Regions from separate parts of the Homo sapiens genome. Here regions 2 and 3 are each reported to be linked to region 1. Evidence: microRNA targets listed by miRTarBase, many of them from high-throughput screens and not tested one by one. Region 1 holds a microRNA gene; each other region holds the end of a gene's coding sequence.
Evidence for each region. The annotated mature microRNA hsa-miR-1908-5p reads CGGCGGGGACGGCGAUUGGUC and lies in region 1 at 6,104-6,124, shown strand. An mRNA with a match to its seed (bases 2 to 7 or 8) in the 3' UTR can be bound and repressed. Matches are read on the target gene's strand: a 7mer-m8 pairs with bases 2 to 8, a 7mer-A1 pairs with bases 2 to 7 and ends in A, and an 8mer does both.

Region 1 (9,550 bases):
GTCTAGGCTGGTCTCCAACTCCTGAGCTCAAGTAATCCTCCCACCTCAGCCTCCCAAAGCACTGGGATTATAGGCACGAGTCACTGTGCCTGGCCTGGCATTAGGGTCTTAAGCTCATTTCGTTCTGTTCCTTGAGGATTAATTTGGCCAGAACAGTTAGTATTCACAAGTGGCAACCTAAAATTAAGTATGTGATTCATATCCAGGATGAGGCAAGTTCCCTTAGGATCAACAGGGCCTGCAAGGCAAAGGTTTCCTTTAGTTGACCTGGATATGGGTTTATTGCAGTCTGTGTGACCACCTGTGTAGGTGGGTAAGGAGATGAGAGGGCAACACGACATTTGCCTAGTGGCCTATAGGCTTACTCACCTGTATTTTTTCAGGTTGAAATCATCAGTTGATTCAGCAAATTTTTTATTTATTTATTTATTTAGAGACAGAGTCTGGCTCTGTCACCCAGGCTGGAGTGCAGTGGTGCAATCTCGGCTCACTGCAACCTTTGCCTCCTGGGTTCAAGCGATTCTCCTGCCTCACCCCCACAAAGTAGCTGGGATTACAGGCACCCCCCACCACACCCGGCTAATTTTTGTATTTTAGTAGAGACAGGGTTTCACCGTGTTGGCCAAGTGGGTCTGGAGCTCCTGACCTCAGGTGATCCGCCCTCCTCACCCTCCCAAAGTGCAGGGATTACAGGCATGAGCTGCCACGCCCGGCCAATTCAGCAAATTTATGTGGGATTCCACCTAGAACTCCAAACCAAGGTGCTCTGAATATGTATTGGTAGTATAAACAGAATCCACAGCCCTATCCTGGATTATAAGCTCGTTAGGGAGGTAGCAAAATACATGACACTGACCTAAGAACACATGAAAAGCAAAGAAACATGAATGCAAAGTCATGTCATATAAGCTGTTTAAATCCTGAGTAAGATGAATTTAATTTGCATCTATCCTACTGACCTATAATCCGTGACTCACTTGTCTCTCTCCTCCAGTAGACATGACTAGGCATGACCCATATAGTACTGAACTTTGTATTCCCAGCACCTTACCAAAGTAGGTGCTGGGAATACAAAGAGGAGACACCCCACAAATGTTAAATAAAACACTTAATGAATGGTTCTAGGTAGGTGGGGTTGATCAAGGAATTATCTTACAAGTGGTATGGGTTTTTTGGTTTTTTCTGAGGTGCAGTCTCACCATGTTGCCCAGGTGATTCTCCTGACTCAGCCTCCCAAGTAGCTGGGATTACAGGCACTAATTTTTGTATTTTAGTAGAGACAGAGTTTCACCATGTTGGCCAGGTGGGTCTCGAGCTCCTGGCCTCAGGTGGTCCACCTGCCTCTGCCTCCCAAAGTGCTGGGATTACAGGTGTGAGCCACCGCGCCCAACCTAGTCTTTTTATAGAACAGTTATCTCTGTAGCCAAACTTACATCATATTATTTAATTTTCCTTGATTCGGGGGAGGGGGGAGGGATAGCATTAGGAGATATACCTAATGCTAAATGACGAGTTAATGGGTGCAGCACACCAACATGGCACATGTATACATATGTAACAAACCTCCATGTTGTGCATATGTACCTTAAAACTTAAAGTATAATAAAATAAAAGATTTACATAAAACATTTTTCCTTGATTCTGTATTAAAGGAAAGATGACATTATTTTCAATGTCTGCAAAATATTTCACTGATGGGCATTTAGAGTGTTTCCATTTCCCGCTATCATAGATACTGCTTTAATGAATATTTTTTGTTTATAAATAGTTTTCTTTTTTTGTGTGTGGATATAGAATCTTGCTTTGTTGCCCAGGCTGGAGTGCAGTGGCACAATCTCGGCTCACTGCAACCTCTGCCTCCCGGATTCAAGCAATTCTCCTGCCTCAGCCTCCCGAGTAGCTGGGACTACAGGCGCACGCCGCCACGCCCAGCCGATTTCTTTTGTTCAGGCTGGTCTTGAACTCCTGAGCTCAGGCAATCCGCCTGCCTCGACCTCCCAAAGTGCTAGGATTATAGGCGTGAGGCACCCCGCCTGACCTATAAATATTTTTCTAAGAACATTTCCTTAGGCTATATTCCTAAACATGGAATTATTGGGAACATTTTTATTTTTCTATTTTTTTTCATCTCTTCAGTATTCAAAACATTCCTAAATTCTGGCCGGGTGCGGTGGCTCACGCCTGTAATCCCAGCACTTTGGGAGGCCGAGGCGGGCAGATCACGAGGTCAGGAGATCAAAGCCATCCTGGCTAACATGGTGAAACCCCAACTCTACTAAAAATACAAAAACAAAATTAGCTGGGCGTGGTGGCGGGCACCTGTAGTCCCAGCTACTTGGGAGGCTAAGGCAGGAGAATGCCATGAACCTGGGAGGTGGAGCTTGCAGCAAGCTGAGATCAGGCCACTGCACTCCAGCCTGGGCGACAGAGCGAGACTCCATCTCAAAAAAAAAAAAAATCTTAAATTTCTATATAAGTTGTCAAACTATTTTTTCCAGTTTAATCAACTTACACTTCTACCAGCAGTATGAGAGCTTTTATCCCACTGCACAGTCACATAGGAAAAATGGTTTATGTAAAGGACCTCTCTTCTGTTATTTAATACCCATGAATTTCTTATATAGTTGTAATCAGCGAACCCATACTACTTTGGGTTCTGCTTATTTCACGGGGAAGGATTCTATATCTATCAATATAGTTCACATTCTAGCCATTTAAAATCATTCTTTAATTCTTCATTGTGTTAACAGATCCCAATAAGCTTGGCGATTTTCTTATTGTCAGGACTCGGGTTTATTTCCAGTTTTTGCTATTAAATTGGCTATTTCTGCATCTTTGCACAGTCTCCCCTACTTTACCAAGAGTGAAACTGCTTGATCAAAGAATAGAAAATGTTTTGTAGCTCGCATTAGACACTGCCAAGTTGTTGGGCAAGGTTTTTAAAAAAGGAATATTGGCTGTACAGAGGTGCAGCTGTGTGGACCATCATTCCTGAGCAGGGTCCAATAGCCTGGCATCTTACCTGGAAGTCAGGACATCTAAACTTCCCTATGGGAACTTGGTAAGCCCCTTCCCCATTTCGAACCTCAATTTTCTTATCTATAAAATGAAGAATTTGGATGGAATGAATTAATCCTTTTCTACCAGAAATCTAGCCATATTTCACCTAGTCTATTCTGTATCACCCTCTCCTGACTCCTACGTGCTCAGAATCTAGCTCAGTGCTTGGGACAGTTATGTTTCCTTTCCCTTTGAAGTGCCCAAATACCAGTGTAATGAGAAATATGGCAGAGCCTGAGAGTTCAGAGCACAGGCCAGGGTCAAATCTCAGCCCTCCACTTACAAGCTGTGTGACAAAATAACCTCCCCCGGGCTCAGTTTCTTCACTGTAAATTAGGTTAATTGTTCCAACCTCATAGGGTTGTTAGGAGAATTAAATGAGTTAAGGTTTGCAAAACGCTAAGAACAGTGCCTGGCACACAGTAAGTGCTTTATAAAGTGTTTGTTGAATAAATAAAATTTTGGACCTAAACTCTGGGTCTCTTCAGGACTGCAACAGCTTTGTAACTGGCAACCCCACTTTTAGGTGCGTTCCCACTCCTCTAAAACCCAGAGATCTAAATGCCAAATCTCTCTGCTTAAAAAGTCTCCCAGGGCTCCTAGGCGCCTCCAGGCTAGAACAGAAATGCCTCAGCTTGAAGACCCAGGCTTTTCAGGTGAAACACCTAAGGGTCAGGAGACGCTAGGATCATCACTCAAGGATCCCAGTGAATTTTTCCAAAATACAATAAAAATAAAAACAAAAAGAGGCAAACAGGGTTATAAAAATTGTGGGGCATTTTAAATGTTTCATTGAACAAATTAAAGCATTAACAGCCCTCCCCCAACCACCACCAAGCCCAAGAGACCGTAAATATGCTGTTCACAAGATAACTGCAACTTTCAAGGGCTCTCAGGCTGCTACTTCGGGCAGCACAATTGGCGGCACGACGTGGCAAGCAGGCAGTAGTTTCCAACCCTGGAGGGTCAGCGTCTGGAGACCCCGGCCAAGGCATCCACAGCCTAAAGATGATGTCCGCGACCGCCCGGGCAGCCTCGTGCACGGAAAAACCTCAACCCCGGCCCCGCCCACCCTTCCTGCGGCCACCCCGCAGCCCTGGCCCCTCAGTCCATTCACTCCTGCAGCGCGGCCCCGCACCCAGGGCCTGCACTAGAACCGCTGTTCCTACCGCGGCGCCCCCTGGGAGCCAACGCCGCGATGCCCGCCTGACGTCAGGAAGTCGAATCCGGCGGCGACGCCTTTAGGGAGCCCGCGAGGGGGCGCGTGTTGGCAGCCCAGCTGTGAGTTGCCCAAGACCCACCGGGGGACGGGATCTCGCTCCCCGCGCCACGAGGCTCGGCCAATGGGAACGCGCGCTGCGAGGCCCGCCGGTCTGCCCTGCGGTGCTGAAAACCCGGCGCGCAGGCGGCTGGCTCTGGGCGCGCGCCAGCAAATCCACTCCTGGAGCCCGCGGACCCCGAGCACGCGCCTGACAGCCCCTGCTGGCCCGGCGCGCGGCGTCGCCAGGCCAGCTATGGCCCCCGACCCGGTGGCCGCCGAGACCGCGGCTCAGGGACCTACCCCGCGCTACTTCACCTGGGACGAGGTGGCCCAGCGCTCAGGGTGCGAGGAGCGGTGGCTAGTGATCGACCGTAAGGTGTACAACATCAGCGAGTTCACCCGCCGGCATCCAGGGGGCTCCCGGGTCATCAGCCACTACGCCGGGCAGGATGCCACGGTGAGCGCAGCCAGGCGGGGGCACAGGAGAGGGCGGGACCGGAGGCTGAGTGCAGGGGAGACAGAGTTACGCACTCCGAGCCAAACACCGACTAATTCGGAGGAAAGCCCGGAGGCGCCTGATCATACCTGTTGCCCGGTGATTGGGTGTCCTGCGGATGCGGGATGAAAAGGCGGGAGAGAGGCCTGGAGAAGTGGAGTCTGGGGAGTGGGGATGGAGGCCAACAACACGCACACACAAACAAAGGGTCCCGCCTCCCTGCCGTGCATTCCATCTGCAGCCCCGAGCCTCAGGTCTCTGGGCGGGGACAGAACCCCGAGCTGGGTAGGCTAGGAGGGAGGAGAGCAAGGATGCAGGCCGCCTGGGGAGGGAGGGGGTCAGTGGCCAGGGGAGGGAGTCACATCCTGTCTCGATGGCTAGGAGAGGCAGCGCAGCCGCGTCTGGACCTAGGTGCCGGTCTCCACTCGCCAGCAGGAGCGGAGAGGGAGCAGGAAAGGAGCCCATTCTCGAGGATGGGGCTGAAACGGGAAGCTTGGGGAGACCGCTGCCTTGGGGACCCCTGCGTCGTGTGAAGACTGGAGGACGCGGAAGGGACAGCGCTGGCCGGGGAGGGCAAGCGGCCGCTGGCGTACATAAGGGATTGGGAATGGCATACACTTAGCGAGGACCCCCAGAGCTGTTCTCGAATCGCCGGGGAGGCCACTGAGCCGCAGGCCAGCGAGGTCTTCAGCTATTCCGCGGAGCGGACCGCTGTTTACGCTCTGGGGCGGTAGGCCCTTCGCGGGGTCCTGTCCCTTCTTCCCTTGGTCTCACTGCGGGGTCGGCGCGCGCCCCAGCCCCAGGCCTGCTGCTTCCCTTTCTAGACCACAGCCCTCAGAGCTAAGGCCCCGGCGCCTCTCTGCTGGGTTGGAGTCCTGGGGACTCAGTCCTAGGGACTCGAAAGTCGGGGCGTTCCCTTCACCGCGTTTCCCCCTTGGCGGCCAGAATGGCGTCCCCTCCCCTTGCATCCCCCTCTGATCCCGTGCCCTGCAGCGTGATGCCCTCCACTGTCCCTATCCACTACCCTGGCGTCCCAGAGTGTGCCGCGGGTCACCAGGTTCCCATAACGTCGCAGCAGAGCTTAGACGCTGCGGGGCGAAGACCCGCCCCACCCTCTGACGCGACCAGCCTAGTGGGCGAGGCCAGAGCTTGCGCGGGTCAACCAGAGTGACCACTCGGGAGCCCTGACTGCGGCCAAGGGCGCAGGCGTGTCCCGGCGCATGCGCAGACGAAACAGGCACCAACGCTGGAGCTTCCCGCAGTGTGATTTGGGGCCGGGAATGCCGCGGCGGGGACGGCGATTGGTCCGTATGTGTGGTGCCACCGGCCGCCGGCTCCGCCCCGGCCCCCGCCCCACACGCCGCATCACTTACAGGGCCCGGGGCTGCCGGACCTGCCAACGTGAATCTTATCGCCATGGACCTTACCTTGCACAACCCAAAGTAGCTGCCTTGGGGCAGGGGGTGGCCAGAGTGCTTAGGGAAATGTGGAGCCCTACCCAGAACAACGGTGGAGGGAAAGGGAAGAAACGCAGAAGTGCCCCAGTTCGGACGTAGGGAAGTCTTCCTCTTCGTGGTTTTTGGAGAACCCTAGCTAAGAGAGGAAAGGGACTTATTGAAAGACCCGCAAGAAGGGACGGAAGTCTCATAGCCCTGAGAGGTGAAGCCAGCTGGAGTTGATGGGTCGAATGGGGACCTAGAGAACTTTTCTGTATCTAGAGGTTTGTAAAATGCACCAATCAGTGCTCTGTAAAAACGCACCAATTGGCGCTCTGTAGCTAGCTAGAGGTTTGTAAAATGAGCCAATCAGCAGGACGTGGGCAGGGACAACTAAGACAATAAAAGCTGGCCACCCCAGCCAGCTGCTGCAACCCGCTCCAGTTCCCTTACAGGCTGTGGAAGCATTGTTCTTTTGCTCGTCACACTAAACCTTGCTGCTGCTCATTCTTTGGGTCTGCAAAGAGTGTTATTCCTTTAAGAGCTATAACAGCGGGAAGGTCCACGGCTCCATTCTTGAAGTCAGTGAGACCATACCCGCCGGAAGGAACCAACGCCCGACACAGCCCCACCCATCTCTCCTGTTTCTCACCTATACTGAAATTCTTGGGCAAAAGCTGTCTGTGGACACACCCAGGGGAAAGGCCAGCCCAGGCAGGTGTTTCTTAGTGGTTCCCCTCAGCCAATGCTTCCCATTCCTTGATGCATCCTTCTAACTAGAGCAGATACTCGGTGATCTTAAACTGTGGACACCTGGGAGCACCCTCAAAAGGCAGCTGGGCCTAGGGAGATGGCCTGTGCTTCTGTGTCAGGAGTTGGTTCCTTCAGGTGGGCTCGTGGTCTCGCTGACGTCAAGAATGAAGCCATGAACCTTCGCGGTGAGTGTTACAGCTCTTACAGGTGGCGTGGACCCAAAGAGTGAGCAGCAGCAAGATTTATTGTGAAGAGCAAAGAACAAAGCTTCCACAGCGTGGAAGGGTACCCGAGCAGGTTGCCGCTGCTGGACGTTGGGGGGTGTGAGGGGGAGCAGCCTTTTTTTTTTTTTTTTTTTTTGAGACGGAGTCTCCCTGTCGCCCAGGCTGGAGTGCAGTGGCGCGATCTCGGCTCACTGCAGGCTCCGCCCTCCCCCGGGGTTCACGCCATTCTCCTGCCTCAGCCTCCCGAGTAGCTGGGACTACAGGCGCCCGCTACCTCGCCCGGCTAATTTTTTGTATTTTTAGTAGAGACGGGGTTTCACTGTGTTAGCCAGGATGGTCTCGATCTCCTGACCTCGTGATCCACCCGCCTTGGCCTCCCAAAGTGCTGGGATTACAGGCGTGAGCCACCGCGCCCGGCCGGGAGCAGCTTTTATTCCCTTATTTGTCCCTGCCCATGTCCTGCTGATTTGTCCATTTTATAGAGCACTGATTGGTCCATTTTACAGGGTGCTGATTGGTCCATTTTACCTCTAGCTAGCTAAAGAGCACGGATTGGTGCATTTTACAAACCTCTAGCTACAGAAAAGTTCTCCAAGTCTGCACTCGACCCAGGAAGTCCATCTGGCTTCACCTCTCACTTCAACTTGGGTACAGCCTTCTGGCGGGCAGGAGGATGGCCTTTGGTGCGAACACTGCCGGAGTCCAGGGGGCTGGCTCCCTCACCTTTCATCTTCTCCCGGCACTTGCAGGATCCCTTTGTGGCCTTCCACATCAACAAGGGCCTTGTGAAGAAGTATATGAACTCTCTCCTGATTGGAGAACTGTCTCCAGAGCAGCCCAGCTTTGAGCCCACCAAGAATGTAAGACCCTGTGTTTGCTATGTCGCAACTATTGGTTGTTGAGGGGGACAGAGAGGGGGTGGAAGGAGAGTCTAGATGGGATCACAGTCATAGTAATCACAGTCAGTAGTAGCTCTGGGGAGTCTTGAGGTCCCTGCTTCTCTTGCATAGTCATGAGGTCACAGGCCCAAGGGAGCATGGCTTTGCAACCTATGGCTCCCCCAAGGCTGCCACTACCATGGCTGCCATCATTGTTATCATCATTGTTATCATATGAGCACTTACTATGCACCAAGCATAAACTCATAACTCTTACACATTTACAGATGAGATAACAGGCTCAGGGAGGTTAAGCAACACAGCCAAGGATCACACAGTTAGTAAATGGCAGAGCAAGGACTTAGTCCCCTGAACTCTTAGGCACTATCCCATGGCACCTCCTCCTGTCATCCTCATTGTCGTGGTATCTTTGCCTAGGACTGTGGACTTCCCACAGCTACCTCAGTGGGAGGTCCTTGAGCCTGAGAGGGCCCTTGTCTCCAGTAGCATTGGGGTGCAGATGAGAAGAATAACAGCTCCTCTTCCTCTTCTGCAGAAAGAGCTGACAGATGAGTTCCGGGAGCTGCGGGCCACAGTGGAGCGGATGGGGCTCATGAAGGCCAACCATGTCTTCTTCCTGCTGTACCTGCTGCACATCTTGCTGCTGGATGGTGCAGCCTGGCTCACCCTTTGGGTCTTTGGGACGTCCTTTTTGCCCTTCCTCCTCTGTGCGGTGCTGCTCAGTGCAGTTCAGGTGAGAGCCTTTGGCTTGTCAAGTGCACAGCAATGCTCAGCATCCCTGGGGAAAGCTCCTTGGGTGTTTGAGGAAGGCCAAGAGTGCCTGCCCTCCAAGCAGGGCAGATCTGAAGGTATGCAGGAGTGAGTGCAGGAACATGCATTCTGCTGTCTTGACCTGTCTGCTCTTTAGCCACATGGACATCTTCATTTCTCTCACTGCCTTTTTAGCTGCTTCTCCAAGGGTTCTCTTCTTCCTATGCGGTTTGTTCTCTGCCACAGCCCACCTGTGCCAGGAGCCAAGTTTCTGGTTTCTTAGCAAAGCTTGGCTCCCTCCCCACCACTGACATTGCCCAATATGTTAATAATGATTGAGCGCTAATTCTTGACTGTCAGGACCCATTTGGCAAGCCTTCTGCTCATGTTTCAGTCCTTTCTGTATTCTAGATGTCAGTCCATCATAAGTCATGAGCTTCAGGCCAGGTGTGGTGACTCATGTCTGTAATCCTAGCACTTTGGGAGGCCAAGGTGGCCGGATCACTTGATCTCAGTTCAAGACCAGCCTGGCCAACGTGGTGAAACCTCTACTAAAAATACAAAAAGGCCAGGCACAGTGGCTCACGCCTGTAATACCAGTACCTTGGGAGGCCAAGATGGGCAGATCATTTGAGGTGAGGAGTTCAAGACCACCTGGCCAACATGGTGAA
Region 2 (9,550 bases), not on the chromosome of region 1:
TCCAGTTAGGAGGCTGGGACCGCAGCCCAGGTGAGCTAAGAGGAGGGCTGGGCCTAGGCCACAGCTGCCGGGACCCCGAGGAGGGGCCCATCCAAGACATAATACAAGCTTCTTGGGGGCAGATAAGCCGCTGGGGCTCCTGGCTCAGGCAGCCTGCAATACCCTCCACCGAACCAGTGAGTGCCGCAGAAGAGGGAGAGGAGGAGTAGGGAGAGGAAGCTGGTGGCAGGTGGCACCTCCGGGGCCGGCAGGCAGGCAAGCACTCCAGGCCGACTCCGCCTCTGGCTTAACCCCTGTCTCAGGGCAGCCCAGGCGCCTCCCTGGAGAGGGCAGGTGCCCGGGCCTTTCCCTCCCGGTTTCCTGTGAGACACCCCCATCCCCTCATCTCACCTCTATCACCACCCCCAGGCACTTGCTGGTTTGAGGCTCTCGAGGGGCTGAGGGGGGCAGGCCCTGAGTGCAGCATGGGTTGGCCCAGCTGTGCCCAGGGCCTCTTCCCCCTCCCCAGAGCTGCCCTGGGGGGCAAAGCCTAGTCTCCTGAGGCCCCAGTGCCTCCCTGACTAGTCCCCCTGTGTTTCTTCCCCCTGCTGCAGATGGCGGTGGGACCCCCCGACTGCCCTGTGGGAGGGCCGCTGACCTTCCCTGGCCGGGGTTCTGGGGCTGGGGTCGGGACAACCCTGACCCCCCTCCCACCCCCTAAGATGCCCCCCCCCACGATCCTGAGCACGGTCCCTCGGCAGATGTTCAGCGATGCAGGTAGCGGGGACGATGCCTTGGATGGAGACGATGACCTGGTGATCGACATCCCGGAGTGACCGTGACATCACGCCATGCCCACCACGGCCCCGCCCGGCGCCCTCCCCGTGCCAGCACACACGAGTCCAGCTTCCTCGGAGGTGTTTATTGATGCCCAGCTGCCATGCTCCGGCCACTGACACAACCAGAAAAGGCGTAAACATGCACGGGTGTCCCCCAGGAGGGTGGCAGGGGCCCTGCCTTCAAACCCCGGCCCCCTCCAGGGGACAGTTATTTAAACGAGTGGCCGGGAGCATCTGCCACCTGCTGGGGAGGCAGAGACCCTGCAATGGCCACCTCTTTAAAAGGGCAGCTGTACAGGGCTAGGTTTTTTCAATGAAGTTTCTGTATTAAAGGAGTGGCTCTGGGTTTGTTTTTTGTCCTTTTTTTTTGAGACATTCTCCTCCTCTGAACCTCCCCTAATCCGACCTCCTCCCTGTTGGGGGAGAGGGACGGGGCAGCGTGGAGAGGCAGGAGTGAGGAGCGCGGGGGCCTGGGGCCGGGCTCTGAGCACTGCCCGGGTGTGCAGATGATGGGGGGTTTGCATATTTGCAGGGACTAGCGAGTCAGGCAGGAGGTTTGCATATGTGAATATAGAACTCCGCAGCCCCTCATGAGCAGACAGACCCGGGTCACGGAGACTCACAAAAATAGGTAGTGCAGGGTGGGGGCAGCCCACCCTGTGTAAACGTGCAACACACTCGTGCGAAGGTTGGGTACTGGACCCGGCTCGATGGGCCTGTGCCGGGACACTGCTGTCCACTCAGGCTGAGGACAGAGCCCCGGCCGCAGGGGGCAGCTCACTGGTCAGGGTGTGCCAGCGCTCCAGGGCTGCGTCCGGCTGCTGCAGGCAGTCACTCCAGTGCTTCCGAGCCTCGCCTCGGGCACCTGGCCCCAGGGACACGCCACCTGGGGAGCAGGTGGGCAGGGTCAGGGCCACCTCCCTGCCACTTGCCCGCCCTCAACACCCGCAGCCAGCTCCTCCCTCACCAATGAAGTCATTGGATTTGCCAATGTCATAGTCCCAGACGGTGACTTCCAGGGTCTTGGTGGCCAGAGTGGAGAGCTCTATCTCGTAGAAAAACTCCTAGGGACAAGGCCGGCCACCCGTTCGTGAGCCAGCTCCCCAGCCCCTCCCTGGCCTCCCTCCATGTCCCGTCCCCTCCTGGGTACCTCGTTAAATTCTGGGTTGAGAGTCTTCTTCTTCACACACGTCTTATGCTTGGATTTCTTGTCCACATCGGGCCTCAGGTACCTGGGGGTGGGGTGGAGGGAGACGAACTGAGGGGTGAGGGACAGGCCAGGCCCAACTCAGGCCAGGGCAGGCTCCCTGGGGAGGAGAGGGTCAGAGCAAGGGCTCACGTCTTGACGTAGGGGTCCGAGTAACCGTTGACGTCCATGGCAGCCAGATGGGCGCAGCGCAAGATGCCTACCAGCAGTCCCCGGCGCCGCGAGCTGTAGCTGAGACTCAGCAGGATGCGGCCACGCTCCTCCAGCAGCCCCTGCCCCTGCTCCGCCTGCTCCAACTGCGGGGCACAGACTCAGGGTCAGCCTGGGCCCCTGCAGCCTCCCACCCACATGCATCCCCATCCCCATGAGGTGCCTCACCTCCTTCAGATAACAGGAGATGCCCCTCAGCGCCGCTGACATGGAAGAGGGGGACGCCAGCTGAGGGGGCAAAGAGAAGGTTCTGGAAGCCTGGCCTCCCCAGGGCCCCCTCCCCTGGCGCCCCTGCAGCCCCCACACAGACCGGGACCTGGCGCTCGAGGCAGATGTTAAAATGCTTCTTCTGCGAAGGCTTGAGGCGGCGGAGGGGCACGCGGATCTCCCCAATAAACTCATTGTGACTCAGCTTGTCCTCATCACAGACGGCGATCCTGGTCGGGAACTGCAGTGTCAGGGCCCCTGGGGTACCTGAGCCCCGTTCCGGGGTGTAGGAAGGGCCTTGGACCAGCCCAGCTCTGCCCTAAACACTACGTCTCATCTGGAAGACAGGCTGGCACTTGAGAAGGACAAGCAGATTTGCCCATTCCTCTGTCCCTCCCTCTGCAGCCACCCGGCTGTCCCTGGTCCATCAGGACATGCTCAGCCATTGTGGGAAGCCCTCAGAAATCTTGGAGCACGCTGCTCACTGCCTCCATTCAGGGCCTGGGGGCAGGAGCCGAACACCACGGTGGATGTGGCCATAGACACAGGCCGTGAGAGCTAGAAGGGCCTTGGAGCCTTGGGCAGCCAGACCAGTACCCCACGCCTCCTCGGGAACCCCCGTCCTTTTCCTGCATGCAGCAGAGAGCCAGCCCCGCAGGGACTCACTAAGAAATGATTGCTTTCCAGCCACCTGTCCTCCTGCAGTCCCTGCCCTGCCTCCGCAGTGACCCACTACCAGGCTGGGCATCTGTGGCATGGAGGATGGGCAGATCCCAGCCCTGCCACTTCTGAGCCACCTGTGTGACCTTGGGCAAGTCACTTGATCACCCTATGCCTCAATTCCCATCTGTAAATGGAGATAGTCAAGGGAAAGAAAGAAATGTGAAAATGCTAAGCCTGGGCTGGGCCCTGGTGAGCGCTCATTTTTTGGTCTCATTCTGGTTTTGGCCTCTGGCCTCCCCTCCATTCCACCCGAATAGCTGAAACCAAGGTGGCCTCTCTGCTGCACAGCCCTGACCATCAGGGAAGGTCCCAGCTGCAAATCCAAGCACAAAGGCAGAGGTCTCTCCAGAGCCTGGGTTTCGCTGCCCGCCACCTGACTTGAGGGAGTACTCTCCCTACATCTCCATCTCCTAGGATGACGGAGCAAGTTCCCTGTCCCTGAAGACTTCACTCCTTAAGAGATTTTAGGGGAACTCAAGGCACGGAAGGGGCAGACCAAAGCTGCAGAGGTCTGGCTTAAGCCAAGGGCTCTGAGAAGGGGTCTCGGCAACCCAGGAACGTTTTTGGGAGGGGGCAGAGCTTGGACTGAACCTCAGATGAGCGGAATTTAGGCTGGCAGGAAGGAGCTTTCCAGATAGAAAACAACAGGAAAAGTTCAGGAGTTGTGGAACTGGCCAGTTGGAAGAAGGGAGTCCTCTGTTTGAGGGGCAGAAGATACTTTTGTTTTGTTTTTGAGATGGAGTCTCCATCACCCAGGCTGGAGTGCAGTGGTGCGATCTCGGCTCACTGCAACCTCTGCCTCCCGGGTTCAAGTGATCCTCCTGCCTCAGCCTCTCGAGTAGCTGGGATTTACAGGTACATGCCACCACGCCCGGCTAATTTTTGTATTTTTAGTAGAGACGGGGGTTTCACCAAGTTGGCCAGGCTGGTCTTGAACTCCTGACCTCAAGTGATCCGCCCACCTCGGCCTCCCAAAGTGCTGGGATTACAGGTGTGAGCCACCACACCTGGCAGGCAGGAGATATTGAGGGGCAGGAATGGCAGGGAAGAATTTTGGCCTGCTGCCAAAGGGGCTAGGGAGCCGCTGATGGTTCTTGAGCATCAGAGAGGTACGGGCTTAATGGGACATAGATCAACCAACCAGCGGTTACAATGTCAGCTGTCCCCGAGCTGCTGCTGGGTGGTGGGGAGGGGGGCCCTCACCTGAGCACCTTGTGCGTGATGTCGTCATCTGTGATCCCGCTGTAAGTCAGGTCCTCATTCCACACGGGATTCAGTGTGTTCCTCTGAGTCTTCGTTTTTAGCTTATTGGCCTGGGATGTGGGGATGAAAGGTTCTCAATACCTGTCCTCCAGCCCCACAGGCTGGAGTCATGGGCTGGGCCGGGCGGGGCGAGAGGAGGCTGTTACCTTACAGGCTCCAGGCAGCAAGTGCAGCTTGACGTAGGGGTCGGCGAGGCCATTGAAATCCATGGGCTTGAGGCCCTGGAGAGGAGGGCAGGGGAGAGGGCTAGAGGCTCCCGGCACCTCTCTCCATCCCTCTTGTAGAGCTGGACCCTGGAGGAGCCCAGAAGGAGGGGGCAAGGGCAGGACGAAGGAGCAGGCCTGGGAAGGGAAGGAGGAATGGGCCCCCTCTGGGGGCTGCACGCAAACCGGGCCCGGGCTTGGGTGGCAGGGAGTGCCCACCTTGGCCCTGAGGATGCTACAGTGCAGAGTGCAGGAGGCCCGGTCGTAGAGAAGGTCAAACTCCAGCGTGCCTAGGGCGGCTGGAGAGAGAGGAAAGGCAGCATGGGTCGGTATGGAGACAGGTGTGTGCGAGAGGCCAGCAGGTGGGCACTGGCTCTGTGTGTCTCTCTCTCTTGCCAGCCCGCGAGTGTGAGTGCAAGAGGCTGAGTGGGCCCATGCGTGTGTGCGTCTGGGTCCCTGGCTCGGCCGCAACTGGGGCTGTGTGGGTGGTGGAGTGTCTCAGCAGAAATACTGAATATTGAGCCTTGCTGAAGCTGTAATCTCCACGCTGACTGCAGCTGTGGTGGCCGTCCCTGCCACCCCCCCACTGCCCTCCTCCCCTACCTACATGCACAGCCAGCAGGGCCCATCCCCCTCTCCCCCCACCACGGCAAGCCTGGAGACCCCCACCAGCACATGGGGCCTCCAAGCCCCCAGACTCACTGGCATCATCCGAGTCATAGCTGTCCACCTCCGCACCATCCTCAGGCGTGGTGGCCCCAAGGAGGGCTGCAGGGGGGGCCAGAGCCAGGGGGACCAGATGGGCGGGGGCCTCCCCGCCGCCCCCGCCGCCCCCTTCAGGTCCTGGTCCCCGGGGGAAGTAGTCAGAGATCTGGCGGATGGGCCGGATGGGCCCGGGGCACACGTTGATGGCCATGTGCTCCTGGATGTTGATGGTCATGCGATCGCCCCTGCGGCCCCTCATGCAGCACCCCTGGCTAGGAGAGGGCGTGTGAGCCAGTGAGCCCATCATACCTAGCCATCCTGGCTGAGGGCCAGGCGACGGCCTCCTCGGTCTGTGGGGCCCTCACTGGCCTCCCTTCCTAGGTGTCGAGGGAGAGGGTGGTGTGTGCCAGCCGGTGGCAGGTGGGAGGCCTGGGCCCTGCAGACCCCAAGCTGACTCCACAGGGGCTGGGCTGCCAACCCACTCCTTGCAGAAGTCGAGGTTGCACCACCCCGTCCTCACCCACCCACTTCTAGGTTGTCCCTGTATCATCTTGCCAGCTCCTTCCTCTCCTCCGGGGCTCCCCTCTGCTCCTGAGCCTGCCTGTCCCCCAAGGGGCCCTGCAGGGCCCCGCCTCTGTTTCTCGGAGGCTCTGTCCTCCTCTGCACCAGGCGCTGGTCTAGTCAGGGTGTCACCCACCCCTCTAGGCTCCAACTGCCCACTGTCCCCTCATTCAGCCCCAGGACCTGTCTGCCTGCCTGGTTCCCCCGCTCGCTCACCACAGCCCACGGTGGAGACCCCAGCCTCAGATGCCACCTCTGGCTCCTCAGGGGAGCCAGAAATTGCAGCCGCAGGAGAGCCGAACACCCCCGTAGCGCACACAGGCTGGCACGCTTCCCCGCACCCTCACGCCCCCGGCCTGCCCAGCCCCCTGCACCTGCCTCTGCCTCCAACAGGTGCCCAGGCACTGGGGGGACGGCGGGCGCAGGCTGGGCGGCGGCGGCCGGCGAGGAGAGCGCGGAGTCGAGCTGTGCGAGCCGAGAGGGAGGGAGCGCCGAGAAAGTGCGGGGAGGAGGGGGTGAGCGAGGTGGAGGCGAGGATGCAGCCGGCGCGGCGGCGGGGGACGGGGAGGGGCGCTGGGGCTGGGGAGGGGGCGGGATCTCGGACTCCCACCCGGGGCCCGCTCGGGAGCGCACGCGAGCGCGCACACACACGTGTGCTCGCGCGCGCACACTCACGCAGGGGCACGCGGACCGGCACACACTCGTGTGCACACATCCAACCGGGCACCCCCGCGCGCACACGCCCGTGCCCACGTGTGCACGCTCACACCCTTGCACACACCCAGGCGCGCGCTGGCACACTTACCCGGAGAACTTCGCACACACACGCACTCGCAAACACGCGGGCTCCCTGCGCCACCAGGAAGCAGCCGCCAGAATCGCCGGGTGTTCCCCAACTACTCCTGGGAGACCTGGCCCCCCGCCCCCGCCCGCGCGCGCGGCCACGGCGCCTCCCTCCCTCCCGGGTCCCCAAGGCCGGACCACCGGCCTCGTTGTCATGGCGACGCCGGCTCATCTCCCCCCACCCCCGCGCGTCTTCACGCCCCTCCCCCGCAGGGAGCTGGGGCCTCCCTCCTCCCTTCCCCACGTCCGTAGGGACCCACAGGTTGACAGGAGCAGGGGGTCGCCTGCTGTCACCGGCCGGGGATCTCGGGGTCTCCCGAGCCAGGCTGGGGAGCCTCACGATCTGAGGGAGGAGGCAGAGGTCTGATGCTGCGGCTTCCCCCACGCCCCCTCCCTTTGGCCGTTCAGGCCTCTCTCCTTGTGGCCCAACCCAACTCCCAGGGGCCCATGTCCCCTTACCAGGGATGGTATCTCCTTTGGGAACCACCCTCCCCCCTGCCATCCCCAGTTCTGCCCCGCAGGTGGGAAGGGGCGTCGGGGCTTGGCTCTGAAGGTCTCAGAGCCCTGCGGTAGTTCCCCATGGGCTGCCATTTCTCACCCAAACCTTGCCACCCCCAAGCCGCCCCCCTGCCCGGCCCTGCGCCTGCCACGGAGTGTCAGTCCACCCCTGGCCTTCGGTCTTCACTCACCTGTGCCCCAAACTTACCATCCCGAAGACACGAAGGGGCTTATCACCCTCGCTGCCCACCACTGACTCACCCAACCGTTTCCTGCAGTTCCTGGGACACACCTAGACGGCTCAGGCCTAGGGATCTTGGCTCACATGCGCTCCTCTACCTGGGAACCGCGCTTCCTTAGGAAGTCACCGTGGGTCCCCTCTTCCTAGGAGCCTTCCTGGGGCATCCCGCACTGCCCCTCAGCTCCAGCGCCGTCAGGACTCGGCTCAGCACCGCTTCGCCAGTGCCTCCCCCACCAGCAGGGAGTTCCACTGGAGCGGCTGATTCATCTGGGAGTCCCTAATGTCCCAAACTGGGCCTGGCACGAAGTCGGCATCTCTAAGTGCTGTTATTTAAAACAGCAATCTGGTTGCACGACAACTGAACATACCTAACACCACCTAATCTTACCCTTAAAAATGGTGAAGATGGTACATTTCGATATGCGTATTTCACGGCAATTTTTTTTTTTTTAAATAAGAGAAATGGGGCCGAGAGTGGTGGCGGGTGCCTGTAATCCTAGCTACTCCAGGGACTGCGGCGAGAGGATCGCTTGAGTGAAGCCAGCCTGGGCAACACAGTGAGACACAGTCTCTTAAAAAAAAAAAAAAAAAAAAGTAAGAGAAATGTAAAGTCAACAACACTGAGGGGGCGGGGCGCAGTGGCTCACGCCTGTAATCCCAGCGCTTTGGGAGGCCGAGGTGGGTGGATCACCTGAGGTCAGGAGTTTGAGACTAGCCTGGCCAACATGGTGAAACCCCATCTCTGCTAAAAATGCCGGGCGTGGTGGTATGTGTCTTGGGAGGCTGAGGCAGGAGGATCGCTTGAACCCGGGAGGCGGAGGTTGCAGTGAGCTGAGATCGTGCCACTGCACTCCAGCCTGGGCTGTAAGAGCAAAACTCAGTCTCAAAACAAACAAACAAACAAACAAACAAAAAACCCTGAGATATCACTTATTACCCATAAAATGGGCAAAGCCAAAGTGTCTGGGCTGGGGGGAAGCTGAGACGGACTGATCCCTTGAGCTCAGAAGTTCAAGACCAGCCTGGGCAACATGGTGAGGCCCTGTCTCTACAAAAAAAAAAAAAAAAAAAAAAAAAAAATCCAGGCATAGTGGTGTGTGCCTGTGGTCCCAGCTACTCAAGAGGCTGAGGTGGGAGGATCTCTCTTCTTTTTTTTTCTTTTCTTTTTTTTTTTTTTGAGATGGAGTCTCGCTCTGTCGCCCAGGCTGGAGTGCAGTGGCGTGATCTCGGCTCACTGCAAGCTCCACCTCCCAGGTTCATGCCATTCTCCTGCCTCAGCCTCCCGGGTAGCTGGGACTACAGGTGCCCGCCTCCACGCCTGACTAATTTTTTTGTATTTTTAATAGAGATGGGGTTTCACCTTCTTAGCCAAGATGGTCTCGATCTCCTGACCTCGTGATGGTGGGAGGATCTCTTGAGCCCAGAAGGTCAAGGCTGCAGTAAGCTATAATCACTCCACTGCACTCCAGCCTGGGTAACAGAGTGAGACCCTGTCTCAAAAAAAAAAAAAAAAAAAAAAAATCCTTAGACCCAGAAATTCCACTTTTAGGATTTTATCTTACAGATATGCCAACCCATAAGCCAAATAATAGAAGTTCAAATTCTTTTTTTCTTTTTTTTTTTTTGAGACAGACTTTCACTCTTGTTGCCCAGGCTGGAGTGCAATGGTGCGATCTTGGCTCACCGCAACCTCTGCCTCCTGGGTTCAAGCAATTCTCCTGCCTCAGCCTCCCAAGTAGCTGGGATTACAGGGGCGCACGCCCCACACTTGGCTAAGTTTTTGTATTTTTAGTAGAGACGGTGTTTCACCATCTTAGCCCCGCTGGTCTTGAACTCCTGACCTCATGATCCGCCTGCTTCGGTCTCCCAAAGTGCTGGGATTACAGCTGTGAGCCACCGCGCCTGGCCATGAAGTTCAAAATTCTTAAATGTAGCACGTTCCAAAAGACTGGAAACAACTGAGATACCCAGAAGCAGGGGACCAGTTAAATCAGTCATGATGTAATTCCATGCAGTGAAATAGGGTGCAGCCACAAGAGGCTGTTTTGCTCTTGTTTAGAATCATCTTTTT
Region 3 (9,550 bases), not on the chromosome of region 1:
ATGTTCCCATGTAATTCTGACAACCCCATGAGGTCAGTATTATCATCACAGGGTTTATGGGTGAGGAGACTCAGGCTCAGAGAGATGTTACTTGCCTAAAGATGTAGTTAGTGGCCAGGCGTGGTGGCTCACGCCTGTAATCCCAGCACTTTGGGAGGCTGAGGCGGGTGGATCACGAGGCAGGAGATCGAGACCATCCTGGCTAATATGGTGAAACCCCGTCTCTACTAAAAATACAAAAAATTAGCCGGGTGTGGTGGCGGGCGCCTGTAGTCCCAGCTACCCCGGAGGCTGAGGCAGAAGAATCGCTTGAACCCGGGAGGCGGAGGTTGCAGTGAGCTGAGATGGCGCCACTGCACTCCAGCCTGGGCGACAGAGCGAGACTCCATCTCAAAAAACAAAAAACAAAAACAACAACAACAACAACAAAAAGATGTGGTTAGTAAGTGGCTGGGTCAGATCTGAAGCCAGAGGCAGCCTGCCTTGGAGTTCATGTGCGAGAACACATTCTGCAAACCTCAGAGCCACATGTGCTATGGTGATGATGATGACAAGGACAAGGACTTGCCCTTTGTGTGACCTGAGCCCTGCCTCCCTTTGACCTGTCCCCCTGCTGGGCTCCAGTTCACAGATGGGGCATGTGGACTCAGCCAGTGAATGGTGACCTCTTGCCCTCCCCTCCCCAGAACCAGGCCGAGGCACATTATAAAGGCCACAAACACGCCAGAAAACTCAAGGCTGTCGAGGCTGCCAAGAGCAAGCAGAGGCCACACACCCAGGCCCAGGATGGGGCTGTAGTGTCCCCAATCCCAACGCTGGCCAGTGGAGCCCCTGGAGAGCCACAGAGTAAAGGTCAGTCCTGAGCTCTTCTCTTTCCCACGTCTCCACTCCAAATCTGGTTTCCGACAAGGGGTTGAGAGATTTCTGCTTATTCTTTTTGCTTGTGTTGGAGTATTCCATACAGACAGGCAAAGGCACACAAGTGTACCACGCCATGAATTTTCCTAAGCTGAACACACCCAGATCAGGAAACACGTTACCAGCACCTCAGAAGCTTGTCTTGCACCTCCTCCTGGTCATTACCTTGAAGTATTCATTTCCAAGGGCTGCCTTCACAAATGACTTCATTTGTGAAGTTAGGAATGGTGGCTCACATGTTGTGATGGTTAACACTTTGGGAGGCTGAGGCGGGAGGATTGCTTTAAGCCTGGAGTTTGAGACCAGTCTGGGAAACATGGTGTGACCCTGTCTCTACAAAAAATTTATTTGCCAGGCATGATGATGCACACCTGTAGTCCCAGCTACTCAGGAGGCTGAAGCAGGAGGATCTGCTTAAGCCCAGGAGGTCGAGGCTGCAGTGAGCTATGGGTGACAGAGCAAAACCTTGTCTCTAACCTCCCCTGCCCACCCCCACCCCCAAAAAAAGAGACTACAACCTGGGTGACTGAAAACAACAAAAATTTATTTTCACACAGCTCTGGAGGCCAGAAGTCTGAAATCAAGGCGTTGACAGCATTGGTTCCTTCTTGGGGGCTTAGAGGAGAAAGTGTCCCATGCTTCTCTTCTGGCCTTTGGTGGCTGCCAGTATTCCTTGGCACTCCTTGGCTTATAGACGCATCACTCCAATCTCCACCTCCATCTCCACATTCTCCCTTGTGTGTCCCTGTGTTTCCACAAGCTCTTTTTATAAGGGTACCAGTCACTAGATCAATCCCACCCGAACCCAGCATGACCTCATCTTAACTAATTTTATCTTCAAAGACCCTGTTTCCAAATAAGGTCACATTCTGAGGTTCCAGATAGATGTGAATTTTGGGGGAGACACTATTCAACTAACTACAACCCCTCTGATGGTAAATACGATCCTGACTTTTCTCAGCATAGATCAGCTTTACCTATTTTTGGTGAAACATAGAGTGTGCAGGGGTTTTTTTGTATCTGTTTTGTTTTGTGGGTTTTTTTTGTTTTGTTTGTTTGTTTTTTGAGACAGAGTCTCGCTCTGTCTCCCAGGCTGGAGCACAGCGGTGCAATCTTGGCTCACTGCAACCTCTGCTTCCTGGGTTCAAGCCATTCTCCTACCTCAGCCTTCCAAGTAGCTGGGACTACAGGTACCTGCCACCACGTCCAGCTAATTTTTGTATTTTTAGTAGAAACGGGGTTTCACCATATTGGCCAGGCTGGTCTCGAACTCCTGACCTTGTGATCCACCCACCTCGGCCTCCCAAAGTGCTGGGATTACAGGCGTGAGCCACCCTGCCTGGCCGGTATCTAGTTTTTATTCATCTCTCACAAACATTCATCAACATTCATTATATCTGTAAGATTCATCCATGTTTTTGCGTGTAGCTGTAGTTTGTTCTCTTTCATTGCTGTGTAGTACTCCACCGTGGATCATACCACTATTTTTTTTTAATTTAAATTCTTAAAAGCTCTTTTTTTTTTTGAGACAGGGTCTGGCTCTGTCACCCAGGCTGGAGTGCAGTGGTGTGACCTAGGCTCATCCACCTCCCTGGCTCTCAAGCGATTCTCCTGCCTCAGCCTCCCAAGTAGTTGGAACTATAGGCATGTGCCACCATGCCTGGCTAATTTTTGTATTTTTAGTACAGATGGTGTTTCGCTGTGTCACCCAGTCTGGTCTCGAAGTCCTGGACTCAAGTGATCTGCTAACCTTGGCCTCCCAAAGTGTTGGGATCACAGGCGTGAGCCACTGCGTCTGGCCCATACCACTGTGTTTTTTTTGTTTGTTTGTTTGTTTTTGAGATGGCGTTTCACTCTGTCGCCCAGGCTGGAGTGCAGTGGTGTGATCTCAGTTCACTGTAACCTCCACCTTGCAGGTTCAAGCGATTCTCCTGCCTCAGCCTCCCGAGTAGCTGGGATTATAGGCATGTGCCACCACGCCTAATTCTGTATTTTTAGTAGAGATAGGGTTTCACCATGTTGGCCAGGCCAGTCTCGAACTCCTGACCTTAGGTGATCCACCTGCCTCGGCCTCCCAAAGTGCTCGGATTACAGACATGAGCCACCGTATCCAGCCCGCACCATTGTTTTTTAAAAATCTGCTCTCCTGTTGGTGGACATGTGGGTAGTTTCAGTTTTATGATATTATGAATAGTGTTCTCTGAACATTCTAGTACATCTTTTTTGGTGATCTCTGTTTAAGTTAGCAAATAAGGATATGAGGGCTGTGAGGGCTTTCTGAGACCACTGTGTCCAACTTAATGATTTCAGATGGGGAAACTGAGGCCCAAGTCTGCCCAGTGAGTTGGTAGAAAAGTGGGGCCTGGAATTCAGTGCTGGTCATCCACCAGGGGCCCTCCAGGCCACCTCCATGGTCAGAGCTGAAGATCGTGGTCTGCAGCGTCATCTTGGGTCTCACACTCTTCCATCTCTGCAGCAGTTCCTGCAGCCCCTCCTCTTGGGCCTCCACTCCAGCCACCACCAACTCCAGACCCTACATGCAGGGAGCCAGCCCACTCAGAGCTCTTGGATGCTGCCTCCTCATCCTCTTCTTCCTCCTGCCCACCTTGCTCCCCAGAGCCTGGGAGAGAGGCACCGGGGCCTGAGCCAGCGGCAGCTGCCGTGGGAAGCAGCATGAGTGGGGAAGGCAGGAGTGAGAAGGGGCACCTCTACTGCCCCACGTGTAAGGTGACAGTGAACTCGGCCTCCCAGCTTCAGGCTCACAACACAGGTCAGTAGTCCCAGGAGCTGGAGCCCAGGGAAAGGGTGGGACAGAAGCTAAGCCTCGCCAGATGAGGGCAGGCTTGAGTTCCTGGGTGCTTCGCTCAAGGGTTGGATGGCGGAGGCTTTGTGCTTGTGTGTTACTGAACGGACGTTTCTGGGTCCTCCCATTACTCCTTGGGGAAGGAGAATTGGGAAGAGAAGTCTGAGGCAGCAAGAACTGAAGGTCGCTAAATCTCTGAAGGGTCACTCCACAGGAGACAGGAGACATCTGCCTCTCTCCTTAGATTACACCCAGAAGGAAAGGACTGAGATCAAAGCAAAGGGGAAGGCAGCTATTTGTAGTGCAGAAAGGCCTTTCATAGGAGGGGCTGGCATGAAAGGACAGAAGCTGGGAGGGGAAACCACGTGTGGCTGGAGGGCGATGTGTGCACAGAGCAGCCGTGAGGCTTACAGGGAGAGCCAAATTGCATGAGTGTGGAGGGGGTCTCTGTGGCCCCTGCAACCCCTTCCTGCTGCTGAGAGACTGCCTTCTTCCCTCTCCAGGAGCCAAGCACCGGTGGATGATGGAAGGTCAGCGAGGGGCTCCCCGGAGGAGCCGGGGCCGCCCGGTGTCCAGGGGAGGTGCCGGACACAAAGCCAAGAGAGTCACAGGGGGCCGGGGCGGCCGGCAGGGGCCCAGCCCTGCCTTCCACTGTGCTCTCTGTCAGCTCCAGGTCAATTCAGAGACCCAACTGAAGCAGGTGGGAGAAGTGAGGCTGTGACTGGGGTTGGAGCCAGGGGAGGGGGTTGGGGGGCAGGGCAGCAGAGGGAGGGACCCTGAAGAGAGCAGGCAGGGCACAGCAGAGCAGGCTGGAGAAGCGAGGCCAGCAGGCCAGTGGGCCAATTAAGGGCAAAGGCCAAGACTCACCTCCCCTTCCCAGGGCCTACCCCAGGGTGAGGACCCAGTCTGTGTGCTTTGGATGTATGAGCTGTGGATAGAGGAAGGGGAAGAGTCGAGGATGATGGTCTTGGGGTCCTTGGGCTTTGTCATCTTGTTCCCAGTCTGTCTGTCTGTCCATTAGCACATGAGCAGCAGGAGGCACAAAGACCGCCTGGCCGGGAAGACCCCCAAGCCCTCCAGCCAGCACAGCAAGCTGCAGAAGCACGCAGCGCTGGCTGTGAGTATCCTCAAGGTATCTGTCTCCAGGCAACAGAGCTGGGACTGGGTCAGGAGGGGAGAGGGTGGGCTGGGAGGGCCAGATGGGGGGGCTGCGGTGGGGCAGGAAAAGAGGCCACCCTGCAATGAGGCTGCTGGGCAGTGACAGAGCTAGGCCTGGGAACTGGGATCTGCGCAGAGGAATTTCCGGGGAGGTGGGTTGGGATAGTCATCTTAGGGGCAAGAGTGAGGGGTGGGCGTGCATCTCCTAGAGACCATCTCTATCCCGTAAATCCTCCTCCCTTCTCCCATGCTGAGACTTTCCTCCCTCTGGACAGGAAGACAGGTGGTGGAGAAAGCCCTTCGGAATGAATGTTTGGGGGTGGGAAGGGAGGAGGATTTAGGTTTGGAACTCTAAAAGGCACGCTTTCCCTGCAGCAAAAAGCTTGAGGATGGGCCCCAGGGAGGGGGTGGGGTTTTCTGGGGTGGAGACTGTGTCCATTCCTTTCTTTTCCGTGTAGTCTAAACTGGCCTTGCAGAAGCAACTCACCAAGACGTTGGCAGCCCGCTTCCTGCCCAGCCCGCTCCCCACCGCAGCCACTGCCATCTGTGCTCTGCCAGGGCCCCTGGCCCTCCGCCCTGCCCCTACAGCAGCCACTACCCTCTTCCCGGCTCCCATCCTGGGCCCAGCTCTGTTTCGCACCCCAGCAGGAGCTGTCCGCCCTGCCACAGGACCTATCGTCCTTGCCCCTTATTAGCCCTCATGGGGAGGCCAGAGCTGATTTCCCAATAGCCACTCCTTGTCTCCTCCTGTCCTGAGACACCTTGGTTTCCTACATGCCACAGGGACTGTGAACAGCTTCAGGGGTCCTGCCCGATCCAGAAAGAGCTGGGCTAGTTTTAAGGGCAGCTGCCTTCCAAGGACTGTCCCCACCCTCCTTTCGCAGGCCTTCCAGGGTTAATCCTAGGCTTGCCTGCATTTCCCACCCTGACAGACCCCAAAGATCTATGCAAAATCTCAGCCCCAGCCATGTGGTGCTCTCACTTTCCTCCACCCAAGACCCACATGGCCAGACTCTAGGAATCTTAGCTTCTACAAGCCATCCTCTCCTAGCCAGGGGACGACTCTCTGACCTCTATTCCTAGGCTTTGGGGCTTCACTGGAGATAGGGATGGGGTCTCTAGCTGCAGCAGGCTCAAGGCTGTCAGGACAAGGTGACCATGGGAGTGTGACAGAGGACCATGGAGGAGAAAGGGGGACCCAAAAGTCCTTCGATCAGCAGTGCTAAGGTGGGGCAGAGCCAAGGAGGTAGTGGGGCTGGTTCTGAAAGCTTTTGGGGGCTTCATCTGCTCTGAAGGGGTGGGACTAAGAGAGGAGGTGATGTTCTGGTTGGGCCCAGGGTTTTGTTTTAATCTTAAGTCTTCTGGGCATTCATGGGCCCAGTCTTTTTTTCTGTCTGAGAGTATCATTCTGTTGCCCAGGTTAGAGTGCAGTGGTGCAATCTTGGCTCACTGCATGCAGCCTCTGCCTCCCTGGTTCAAGTGATACTTGCTGATAAGCCCAGTCTTAATATTGAGGGAGTAACTCATCCCTCAGAAGCTCTTCTTCTTAGCCTTTCTCTGACTTCCTGAACCCCAACTCTTGGAGGGCGGGTGTGGGTCTCCCTCAGACTATGGACTCAGCTAACACCGAACCCCCCGCAGAGCTCCCAAAGGAAGAGCTTTCCCCTACAGCTTCCCACTCCAAACTGGTCCTAGCACTAAATTCAGCTTTCCCTTCTCCCAACCAGCCCCTGCCACTGTGAAGCTGAGTGTTGGGAGGCAGTCTCACATGCACTGGCAAGACCCATTTTCATGCTGTCAATGTCAATGTCACAAACTCCTTTCCACTGCAGCACTGCCCCCTCCCCACCCCACAATATGGGACCCTGCCAGTATCCCCCTGTATCTTTTTTTTGTTTTTTAAAGACATTTCCAATGGGAGAACCAGAAAAAGGGGGAGGGGAGGGAAACTTTTTGATAACAATTGTGGTTTTATTGTGTCCAACCAATGCATCAATAAATGAACTTGAAGCCCAAGCCTGTGTGTGTCCTAATTCCACTCACCCAGCCCCGGGCACCTGCCCCACTCACCTCTGGCTTTGAGAAGGGGCGTGTGTCGGTGGTTGCCTGGCTGCAGTGTCTCACCTAGGCTAGGTGTGCACCTTAGAAGCACAAAGCGGGCACAGTTGTGGGTAATAAGCTTACTCTGCAGGCCGCTGGGTGTGTGCCCACCCTCCTGAGCCCCGAAAGAGGACCTGTCAGCTCCTGAGAGGCTGCTACGGGTTTGCCTTGTTCTGTTCAGGCATCTGAGGTAAGAAGGAGGGGCCAGAGGAGCACCTTGTCCAGCCTTCACCATGAGAGCGGGCATATAAATATAAATACAGGTAACTTATAAATAGAAGTCCAGCTCTGAGCTGAAAACCACAGGCAGGATAAAGAGCAGCCTCCAAGAGCGAGGCTGGCGGGCTGGGCACTGAGCGGCCACTCTGGTGACTGACAGCAGGTAGTGCACTCCTGCCCCCTGGTGGCTGGAGGGAGCGGCAGATCCCAGCCTCCAGGGCTGGTTGGCATAGCACCTTAAAGAGGGAGAAGCCATTGGCTTTACGAAATCAAGAGAACTGGAAAGGATCTAGGAGATCATCTAAGCAACTCTGGTCATCTTACAGATGAGAAACTGATGCCCAGAGAGGGGAAAGGTCTTGCTGGGTCACAAAGTGGGCTGGTGACTCATAGCCCAGTTATTCTATTCCATCTCAACCAGTGAGGCCCATCTGCTCCCTGAGCAGGAAGAGGAAGTAAAACAATTGGTAGGGGTGGGGAATTTTTTTTTTTTTTCTTCGAGATGGAGTCTTGCTCTGTTGACCAGGCTGGAGTGCAGTGGCACGATCTCGGCTCACTGCAGCCTCCGCCTTCTGAGTTCAAGCAATTCTCCTGCCTCAGCCTCCCCGGGTAGCTGGGATTACAGGCATGTGCCACTACGCCCGGCTAACTTTTGTATTTTTGGCAGAGATGGGGTTTCACAATGTTGGCCAGGCTGGTCGTGAACTCCTGACCTCAAGTAATCGACCCGCCTTGGCCTCCCAAAGTGCTGGGATTACAGGGGTGAGCCACTGAGCCCAGCCAGGGGTGGGGGATTTAAAACAGAAAACTACACTCCCAGGAGGCCAACTTCTTCCAGCCAAGAAAAGGACAGGAGAAAGGTCAGGGTGAGGGATGAGGAGACGCCTAATGCCAGTATAGGAGCATATTTGTGTGTGCACAACTAAATGCATACACACAATACCTGGACACCCTTTTTCTGGAGTCCAGGCTGGTGCCATAAGTGTGTGTGTGTCGCTGATGGGAAGCCCAGAGGGTGGGGCCCCTACCTATAATAGGAACTCAGACCCAAGAAGGGACACTGCTGCGTGGTGACTCTGCTTCCTGTCTGGGGCAGCTGGAAGGGACAGTGACCCACAACTGCCCCAGGAGACAGTGGAGCAGATCCTCTAAAAGCTGGGATGGGGAGTAGGCTGGGAGGGCTGAGGAAGGGGATGTCAACCAAGAGTATTTGCACTTCCCAGAGGTGAGAGGGAGCAAAGTGGCTGGGGCGTGGCCTGGCGGGGAGCTCCCTGGCTGACTGGGAAAGACAGCTTGTCCTCTACTTTGCCCTCAACACATCTACCAGAGCCCCAGACACTGAAATGGGGCTGGGATCGTGAAAGAGGAACGGCAGCTCTTCAGCCATCCAAGGAGCCGCTGCCCTTGTTCTTCCGGCTGAGGGGGAAGGCAGACTTGCTCTGGGGTTGCGTCATCTTGCTGGCCAAGTAGACAAAGGGCTCCAGGAGGGAGCGCCGGTCCGCCACTGACACCTCCCACAGCTTCACCTTCTCTGACTTGGCCCAGTGCTGAGCCACATCTGGGTCTACACGCCGCTGCTCCTGTAAGTCACACTTGTTGCCAAGGACCACGATGGTGACCTGGGGAAGAGGGACAGAGCATAGGCCTGTGAATGTACCATAGAACCAGGAATGGACATGGGGGCTGGCAACCACCTAGGAGTTCTATGAGAGGAAAGCTCAATGGCTGATATCTCATCTCTTTCTAGATTCCATACCACTCATTGTGGGGAAGGAGATGGTTGCTTTTTTTCTCTTTCCTCTGTTCAAATTCTGGCCTCCATCTAGCCCTCCTTTTAGGAGTTCTATCACCAGCTCTGTATTGCCCATACATGCTCATTATTAGCAGTCAGTTTCTGGCTCAACAACAGGTGAGGAAGCACTCCCAGAACCCTGCAGCTTACTGTGGGATTCTGGAGAACAGAAGGGCCTTCGTGGCCAGATGCAGTGGCTTACGCCTGTAATCCCAACACTTTGGGAGGCTGAGGCAGGTGGACTGCTTGAGTCCAGGAGTTTGAGACCAGCCTGAGCAACATGACAAAACCCCATCTCTACTAAAAATACAAAACTTAGCCAGGTGTGGTGGCATGCACCTGTAGTCTTAGCAGGGGGCTGAGGCAGGAGGACCACCTAAGCCTTGGGAGGTTGAGGCTGCAGTGAGCTGTGATCATGCCACTGCACTCCAGCCTGGGTGGCAGAGTGAGACCCTGTCTCAAACAAACAAACAAACAAACAAACAAAAGAAGGGCTTTCATAGCTAAAAGCACAGAACCATCAGGAAGGACAACTATGTGGGGACTTCATACAACTAAGT

Region 2: the mRNA of INO80E is a reported target of hsa-miR-1908-5p. Seed matches in the 3' UTR shown: 7mer-m8 at 844-850.
Region 3: the mRNA of NKIRAS2 is a reported target of hsa-miR-1908-5p. Seed matches in the 3' UTR shown: 8mer at 8,456-8,463 and 7mer-A1 at 7,318-7,324.

The regions. Positions count from the first base shown.
Region 1 is chr11:61,811,783-61,821,332 of GRCh38, reverse strand. It overlaps MIR1908 (microRNA 1908), which reads left to right and starts at 6,093; the gene lies at 6,093-6,172. FADS1 (fatty acid desaturase 1) reads left to right here and starts at 4,330. Exons shown (of 12, transcript NM_013402.7): 1 at 4,330-4,778; 2 at 7,980-8,090; 3 at 8,665-8,862. The coding sequence starts at 4,404. LOC124902680 (a long non-coding RNA gene) reads right to left here and starts at 3,313. Exons shown (of 2, transcript XR_007062696.1): 1 at 1-3,313. It also overlaps a transcript of FADS2 not described here. RefSeq lists silencers at 3,969-4,068, 4,409-4,608, 6,129-6,248 and an enhancer at 5,129-6,026.
Region 2 is chr16:30,004,628-30,014,177 of GRCh38, forward strand. It overlaps INO80E (INO80 complex subunit E), which reads left to right. Exons shown (of 7, transcript NM_173618.3): 7 at 594-1,164. The coding sequence ends at 815. It overlaps DOC2A (double C2 domain alpha), which reads right to left and starts at 6,400. Exons shown (of 11, transcript NM_003586.3): 1 at 6,276-6,400; 2 at 5,334-5,608; 3 at 4,851-4,930; 4 at 4,575-4,649; 5 at 4,369-4,478; 6 at 2,546-2,672; 7 at 2,404-2,463; 8 at 2,158-2,321; 9 at 1,969-2,050; 10 at 1,786-1,882; 11 at 887-1,704. The coding sequence starts at 5,595. The coding sequence ends at 1,559. RefSeq lists a silencer at 6,307-6,366.
Region 3 is chr17:42,022,921-42,032,470 of GRCh38, reverse strand. It overlaps NKIRAS2 (NFKB inhibitor interacting Ras like 2), which reads right to left. Exons shown (of 4, transcript NM_017595.6): 4 at 6,830-8,817. The coding sequence ends at 8,578. ZNF385C (zinc finger protein 385C) reads left to right here. Exons shown (of 9, transcript NM_001392013.1): 5 at 687-852; 6 at 3,398-3,688; 7 at 4,225-4,421; 8 at 4,743-4,853; 9 at 5,338-6,895. The coding sequence ends at 5,574. Among named protein-coding and RNA genes, the nearest start is that of NKIRAS2, 7.6 kb to the right of the region's middle. RefSeq lists enhancers at 2,926-3,714, 7,485-7,534.